2 linked regions of the Homo sapiens genome follow. The protein of the gene in region 1 purifies or fractionates together with the protein of each later gene. This does not show direct contact. Each region holds a gene or a part of one and is shown on either strand. Other genes may lie near its edges. The genes, in order: MPZL2 and OCLN.

Region 1 (3,823 bases):
CAAATTCACTCTTTTGCATGTGGATATCTAGTTGTTCCAGCACCATTTATCTCATTTCCTTAATAAATATTTAATGAAATAAACAGCCTTTTTTTTTTTTGAGACAGACTTTCACTCTGGTTGCCCAGGCTGGAGTGCAATGGCATGATCTCAGCTCACTGCAACCTCCGCCTCCTGGGTTCAAGCGATTCTCTTGCCTCAGCTTCCCAAGTAGCTGGGATTACAGGCATGTACCACCATGCCCAGCTAATTTTGTATTTTTAGTAGAGATGGGGTTTCACCATGTTGGTCAGGCTGGTCTTGAACTCCTGATCTCAAGTGATGTACCTGCCTTGGCCTTCCAAAGTGTTGGGATTACAGCGTGAGCCACCGCGCCTGGCGAAACAGAACTAATTTTAAGAAGCCTAACAAACCCAACTCTGAGGTTCTAGTTTGAATAGAACCAATAAAGATGACTTAGGTCAACACAAAACTTTTTATTTTTTTTTTGAATAACAAATATAAATTAGAGGTGGGATACTAATGGTAAAATAAGGTGTCTGCTTTAAAACTCTGGAGTTCCCGAATCAGAACCCAAACTGTATTCCCTTACATTCTGAAAAGTCTCTAAGTTCAGAGGTGTGAATATTATTAATTAGATGGCACCAGTTTAGCTCTGTGTAAACTTCAATCTACTCCCAAGTGCATGTAATTCTTCCAAAAATATGGGGGAAAAATACCTTACCTGAAGCTTCTGTGGGATTTACCCACTTGCTTCTTGTCTTGTTCACCTGACATTTGGTTTCTGCTTGTTACAGAAAAGAAGAGGAAAGGCTCAACCAAGAGAAAAAGGTCTCTGTTTATTTAGAAGACACAGACTAACAATTTTAGATGGTAAGGTTCACAAATAGGTTGATTTCTTTCTTCAGCTTTCTGACATGTCCAGCCCATCTCTAATGAGGACTCCCAGATCATCACTTTATGGCTGTTAGGTGTTTCCCATATGAAATTAGAGGAGCTGGGTCAGGGAGACAAAAGTCTTCTATTAGTCTTATGGATAGCTCCTCCTTGAGTGTATTTTGTGCAAAAGATTAAGAAGCTGGACTCTACTGCCATTAAAGCTGAGAGAATCCTAAGGTTATTTGTGGCTTCGGGGTTATATTTATTACTACTACTACTAATAAATATTCAACAAGTAAATAAATCTTTTTTAAATCAAAAGATTAGTATCTGCTTATTCTTTTTTTTTAATTGTAAACCAATTATGGTATTAAGAGAGTGACTCAATAGACATATCTGGCAGTTTTTACAGGAGAGCTTTTGTACTATTTGGAATTGATTTCAACTCCTCTCATTTAGTTATTGGCACTAATAACTACATGAAATGAATCCAGTTTTAGTAGCGTATAATTTTATTTTTCCAGTTTTCAGGTTCATCAGGCTTAAAAAGTAGGATAATTTATTTTTCTTGTCTTTGTTTTTGAGACAGGGTCTCAACCTGTTGCCCAGGCTAGGGTGTAGTGGTGCGATCTCGGGTCACTGCAACTTCTCCCTCCCAAGCTCAAGTGATCCTCCTACCTCAGCCTCCCAAGTAGCTGGGACCACAGGTGCGCGCCACTACACCCAGCTAATTTTTGTACTTTTTGTAGAGACGGGGTTTCCCCATGTTGCCTAGGCTGGTCTCACCTGAGCTCAAGCGATCCACCTGCCTCAGCCTCCCAAAGTGTTGGGATTACAGGCATAAGCCACTGCGCCGGGCCAATTTATTTTTCATATGCTCAGAATTTCTCCCATTCTCTGAAATAGGTCCACACATTTAATTTCTAGATGTTATAAATCCGGACATGCAAACTTAAATTTTACGCTCATAAGAAAGTTCTTGATATTAATGACTTTATCCTGTAAAACTCTGGCTCTGTTACACGGGAGAACATTTTTTACAGACCGTTATTAGTTGCAAAGAGGGTCACATTTTTATAGGCTAAAGCTCCAGTGAAAGACCTCAAGGATTTATAAAATAGAATATGGAGTAAAATGATTGTATTGTAAAACCAGAAAACCAAAATTAACATTAGGGAGTTTTTACCAACCAACGGCTATTGTCTTTTTAAAGTTAAGGGGATTATCTAACAACTTGGGGTCATGGAAAATAAATATGGGAGATGTTTTAGATCAAAAGAAACTTAAGAGATGAACACAATCAAAGTGCAATGTGTGATCCCCAACTGGATGAATAATAGTGTGAACAAGCTAGTTGTAAAAACAAGCTTGGAGGGGCAATTGGGAAAGTCTTGAATATGAAAATGTTAAATATATGGATAATATTAGGGAATTATTGTTAGTTTGTATTAGGTATAGTGATGGTATTGTAGTTATAAAGAAAATGTACCTATTTTGAAAAATTCTTACTGGAGTATTGGGGTAAATGTCAGCAATTTACTTTAAAAGCATAGGAAAAAAGCAAATAAAACAAAAAAGGCTTCAGAATTAGGTGATGGGGGAGATGAGGGGAGAAAAGAAAAGAAAAGAATGAATTAATGAATTTAAGGGATGGGTAAATTCCACATACTCTGTTCTCTACTTTTCTATATGTCTGATTTTGTTTGTAATGAGAGTGAGAAGTGGGGAGAATATGGGATGTATGTGTGTGAACAAGTTGTGGGTCATCCAAGTGTCCATGCAAGGTACTTAGAGGCCATGATTTAAGGATACTAACTCTGAAAATTATGTAATAAGGATTAGGAAACTTCTTTTAAAAATTAAATTGGGGGAGAATATGAATACTTTCCCTCAGAATATTTTCCTTCTAATAACATATATGTAATTCATAATGCCAAGTATTCCTATTGTACTCTTCTCAAATATATTATCCATTTAAACTTTTGTTTTGTGTTTTAGGAAGCTGAGATGATTTCCAAGAACAAGAACCCTAGTATTTCTTGAAGTTAATGGAAACTTTTCTTTGGCTTTTCCAGTTGTGACCCGTTTTCCAACCAGTTCTGCAGCATATTAGATTCTAGACAAGCAACACCCCTCTGGAGCCAGCACAGTGCTCCTCCATATCACCAGTCATACACAGCCTCATTATTAAGGTCTTATTTAATTTCAGAGTGTAAATTTTTTCAAGTGCTCATTAGGTTTTATAAACAAGAAGCTACATTTTTGCCCTTAAGACACTACTTACAGTGTTATGACTTGTATACACATATATTGGTATCAAAAGGGATAAAAGCCAATTTGTCTGTTACATTTCCTTTCACGTATTTCTTTTAGCAGCACTTCTGCTACTAAAGTTAATGTGTTTACTCTCTTTCCTTCCCACATTCTCAATTAAAAGGTGAGCTAAGCCTCCTCGGTGTTTCTGATTAACAGTAAATCCTAAATTCAAACTGTTAAATGACATTTTTATTTTTATGTCTCTCCTTAACTATGAGACACATCTTGTTTTACTGAATTTCTTTCAATATTCCAGGTGATAGATTTTTGTTGTTTTGTTAATTAATCCAAGATTTACAATAGCACAACGCTAAATCACACAGTAACTACAAAAGGTTACATAGATATGAAAAGATTGGCAGAGGCCATTGCAGGATGAATCACTTGTCACTTTTCTTCTGTGCTGGGAAAAATAATCAACAATGTGGGTCTTTCATGAGCAGTGACGGATAGTTTAGCTTACTATGTTTCCCCCCCAATTCAATGATCTATAACAACAGAGCAAAGTCTATGCTCATTTGCAGACTGGAATCATTAAGTAATTTAATAAAAAAATTGTGAAACAGCATATTACAAGTTTGAAAATTCAGGGCTGGTGAAAAAAATCAACTCTAAATGATGATAATTT
Region 2 (3,823 bases), on another chromosome or scaffold:
CAAGAGATCCTCCCATCTCAGTCTCTTGAGTAGCTGGAACTTACAGGGATGTGCCACCATGCCTGGCTAATTTTAAGAAAAATTTTTTGTGGAGATGGGGTCTTACTATGTTGCTGTGGTCAGTCTTGGACTCCTGGGTTCAAGTGATCTTCCTGCTTCAGCTTCCTAGAGTGTTGGGATTACAGGTGTGAGCCACTGTACCTGCCCTGTAATTTTTAATTTTTTTTTCCCCTGAATATTTTCTGTCTGAGGTTGGTTGAATCAGAATTTAAAACCCATGGATGTGGAGGGTCAGCTGTATTTGAAAATGGATACAATATACCTAAGTGCCTAAGCACTGAAATTTCTTACTTTCAGGATAACCACCTTATGATGAATGCAGTTGCCCATTTTCTTGAAGACTTTTTCTTGTGGTTTTTTTCTTTCTTTTTTTTTTGAGCCGGAGTCTCGCTCCGTCGCCAGGCTGGAGTGCAGTGGCGTGACCTCAGCTCACTGCAACCTCCTCCTCCTGGATTCAAGCGATTCTCCTGCCTCAGCCTCCTGAGTAGCTGGGGCTACAGGCGCGCGCCACCAAGCCCAGCTAATTTTTGTATTTTTTTAGTAGAGACAGGGTTTCACTATGTTGACCAGGATGGTCTTGATCTCTTGACCTCGTGATCCACCCGCCTCGGCCTCCCAAAGTGCTGGGATCACAGGCGTGAACCACTGCGCCCAGCTCTTTAAGACTTTTTCTTATCCCAGTGCAGAGGTCAGGATTATTCCCGCATTTGAGTGCACTTAGAGGAGATAAGGAATTTGTCTCAGATTGCGAGCCAGTAAATGGGGGCTGTTAAAACCACTAGGTTGTTTCAAACTCATCATTCTGACATTACAGAGATCTTGCTTAGTGTTGATGGCCCTAGCCAATGGGTTAGTTATCCTTTCCAGTGTGTTTGGTCAGCTGCAAATCTGGATAAGCGTGTCTCCTCCACTTTGTCTGTGTTTACCAGTGGAGACCTCCCACCAGGTGGACATAAATGGTTCATTCTTTTGTGCTAATTGGGTGCCGTAATCCAGCCCCTTGGGAATCTGCCCACCCACACAAGGATGTGCTCAAGATTTTCAGGATTCTTTCTCTCTGCATTCCCTGAAGAGGAAATAATAAAGGAGAAAATAAAATCCACCAGTTTGGTAACCTTCCCAGAAAAGGAAATGAAGTTGGTGTGGCATGACTTGTTCTTAACGAGCTTTCTTTTCTTTTTTTTTTTTTTGAGACGGAGTTTTGCTCTTTTTGCCCAGGCTGGAGTGCAATGGCGCAATACTGGCTCACTGCGAACTCCGCCTCCCAGGTTCAAGCAATTCTGCTACCTCAGCCTCCCAAGTAGCTGGGTTTACAGGCATGCACCACCACGCCCCTCTAATTTTTTGTATTTTTAGTAGAGATAGGGTTTCACCACATTGGTCAGCTGGTCTTGAACTCCAGACCTCATGTGATCCACCTGCCTCGGCCTCCCAAAGTGCTGGGATTACAGGCATGAGCCACATGATTTGGTTCACAATTTAAAATCCGTGCTTTTGGGGAGACGTGACAACTCTGAATCCTGGAAATAGCAGTTTGAAAAGGGATCTTGTTTGAATTTTTGACAACTTAAGACTGAGTCTGGATTAATTTAGAGTTTCCAAAACTACCACTGAACCTAGAATTTGGGGATATTTGACATTCAGCTTCAGAACTAGGATCCCACATTTAATAGTGCTTAACTTCAGATTTTCTGTTTTACTTTTTTTTTTTAAAGGAGTCTTGCTCTGTCACCCACGCTGGAGTGCAGTGGCACAATCTTGGCTCACTGCAACCTCCACCTCGGGCTCAAGCGATTCTCATGCCTCAGTTTCTCAAGTAGCTGGGATTACAGGCACGTGCCACCATGCCCAGCTAATTTTTGTATTTTTAGTAGAGACGGGGTTTTGCCATGATGGCCAGGCTGGTCTCGAACTCCTGACCTAGGGTGATCCACCTGTCTCCACCTCCCAAGTGCTGGAATTACAGGTGTGAGCCACCTCACCTGGCCTAAATTCAGTATTCCTTAATGTTCTTTTTCTGAAGACAATCTGGACTTTTGCCTTTTTATAGTACCATAACATTTTCGCCTAAATTGCTCATTTGTATGTGTGTTTCACCATTACTAGAATATAGAGAAATTGGCCAGGTGTATTGGCTCATGCCTGTAATCCCAGTACTTTGGGAGGCCAAGGCAGGTGGATAGCTTGAGCTCAGGGGTTTGAGACCAGCCTGGGCAACATGGTGAAACCTTATCTCTACTAAAAATACAAAAATTAGCCAGGCGTGGTGGCATGTGCCTGTAGTCCAGCTACTTGTGAGGCTGAGGCAGGAGGATTGCTTGAGCCTGGGAGGCAGGTTGTAGTGAGCTGAGATGATGGCACTGCATTTCATCCTGGGCAACAGAATGAGACCTTGTCTCAAAAGAAAAAAAAAAAAAGTATAGAGAAATTGACTTGAGTGCTAGTTACAGGGCTGTGTACACTTATGATTTGTGCACTTTTCTCTATGGTATACTTTAAAAGTGGCTTTTAAAAATGTAGAAAAGTCATCTTCCTTCATGTCTTTGGAAAATTATGCTAATTGTGTTGGTGTTATTAACATTCTATATATTTCCATCTTTGAGGATTTATCTAATACATAGTTGGGCAGGGTTTAATTCTGAGAGATTTGAAATACACTGTCCTAAAGGGTATAGAAGAGAGTTGCCAGGTGGGGCGTGGTGGCTCATGCCTGTAATCCCAGCACTTTGGGAGGCCAAGGAGGGCAGATTGCCTGAGCTCAGGAGTTTGACACCAGACTGTGCAACATGGTGAAACCCCATCTTTACTAAAAATACAAACAATTAGCCGGGCGTGGCAGCGTGCGCCTGTAGTCCCAGCTACTCGGGAGGCTGAGGCAGGAGAATCGCTTGAAGCCGGGAGGCGGAGATTGCAGTGAGCTGAGATCATGCCATTGCATTCCATCCTGGTGACAGAGCGAGACTCGGCTCAAAAAAAAAAAAAAGAGTTGCCATTAATTTAAAAAAAAGTTTTAAGAGTCTGAATTGATGTACTGTTGTTAATATATTAATGTATGATTGTACAGACCGTATTAGAAAAGGAAAAAAAATCAGATACTTTAATGTACTCATTATAGATGTTACTCAAGTGTCATTCAGGGATCATACCTTTTAAAGTTACTCTGATACTTTTCCGTTACCTTCAACTTGAAAGCACAAGAGGTTTTGCAGGCAGAGATATCCATGGTCCAATCTGGTTCCTGTAAACATTCAACAAATTATCTGGACGTCTACTATGTGCCAGGCATTGATTTAATCAGTGAACAAAACATGCAAAAATTCCTGCTCACATGGAATTTACCTTCCAGTAGATCTCAAAGTTCCCTACTCTACTAATCACTGGTATAACCTGGAAAGAATTTATTGTTGGTTCAACATAGCTAAGGAGTGGCATGAAGTTCTGTAGCTGATGTGGGAAGTACCTTGCCAGTGTCTCCAGCACTGGGTTTTCTAGAATAATCCTCAAGCTTTATAGGTTAGGGGGTTGTGTGTTTACCACATCTTGCTGAGACTTGTCTTTTTCCTGGAGAGCTCTCAGTGCCCATGGATCCACCTACGGACGTAGGCAGATGACCTCCATCTTCACTTCCTCATGGATGCTAACACCAGATGTGCACTCCCCACAAAAACTGGTGTTTCCCAAATGGAACTCATTGTTTCAAACTAGCATAGTGAAAAGCACATGAAATCATCTGGGTTCAAGTTACATCTGAGTGACTCACTGA

The links.
Region 2: the proteins of MPZL2 (region 1) and OCLN purify together in Homo sapiens (affinity purification with mass spectrometry, with the first as the bait; one large-scale study listed by BioGRID). This does not show direct contact.

What each region holds. Positions count from the first base shown.
Region 1 is NC_000011.10:118,254,288-118,258,110, reverse strand, and holds part of MPZL2 (myelin protein zero-like protein 2 precursor), read left to right. Parts: intron 1-797; coding exon 798-861; 3' UTR 862-873; exon of another isoform or gene 874-1,200; intron 1,201-2,877; 3' UTR 2,878-3,823. UniProt on the Homo sapiens protein: Mediates homophilic cell-cell adhesion.
Region 2 is NC_000005.10:69,499,168-69,502,990, forward strand, and holds part of OCLN (occludin), read left to right. Parts: intron 1-3,823. UniProt on the Homo sapiens protein: May play a role in the formation and regulation of the tight junction (TJ) paracellular permeability barrier.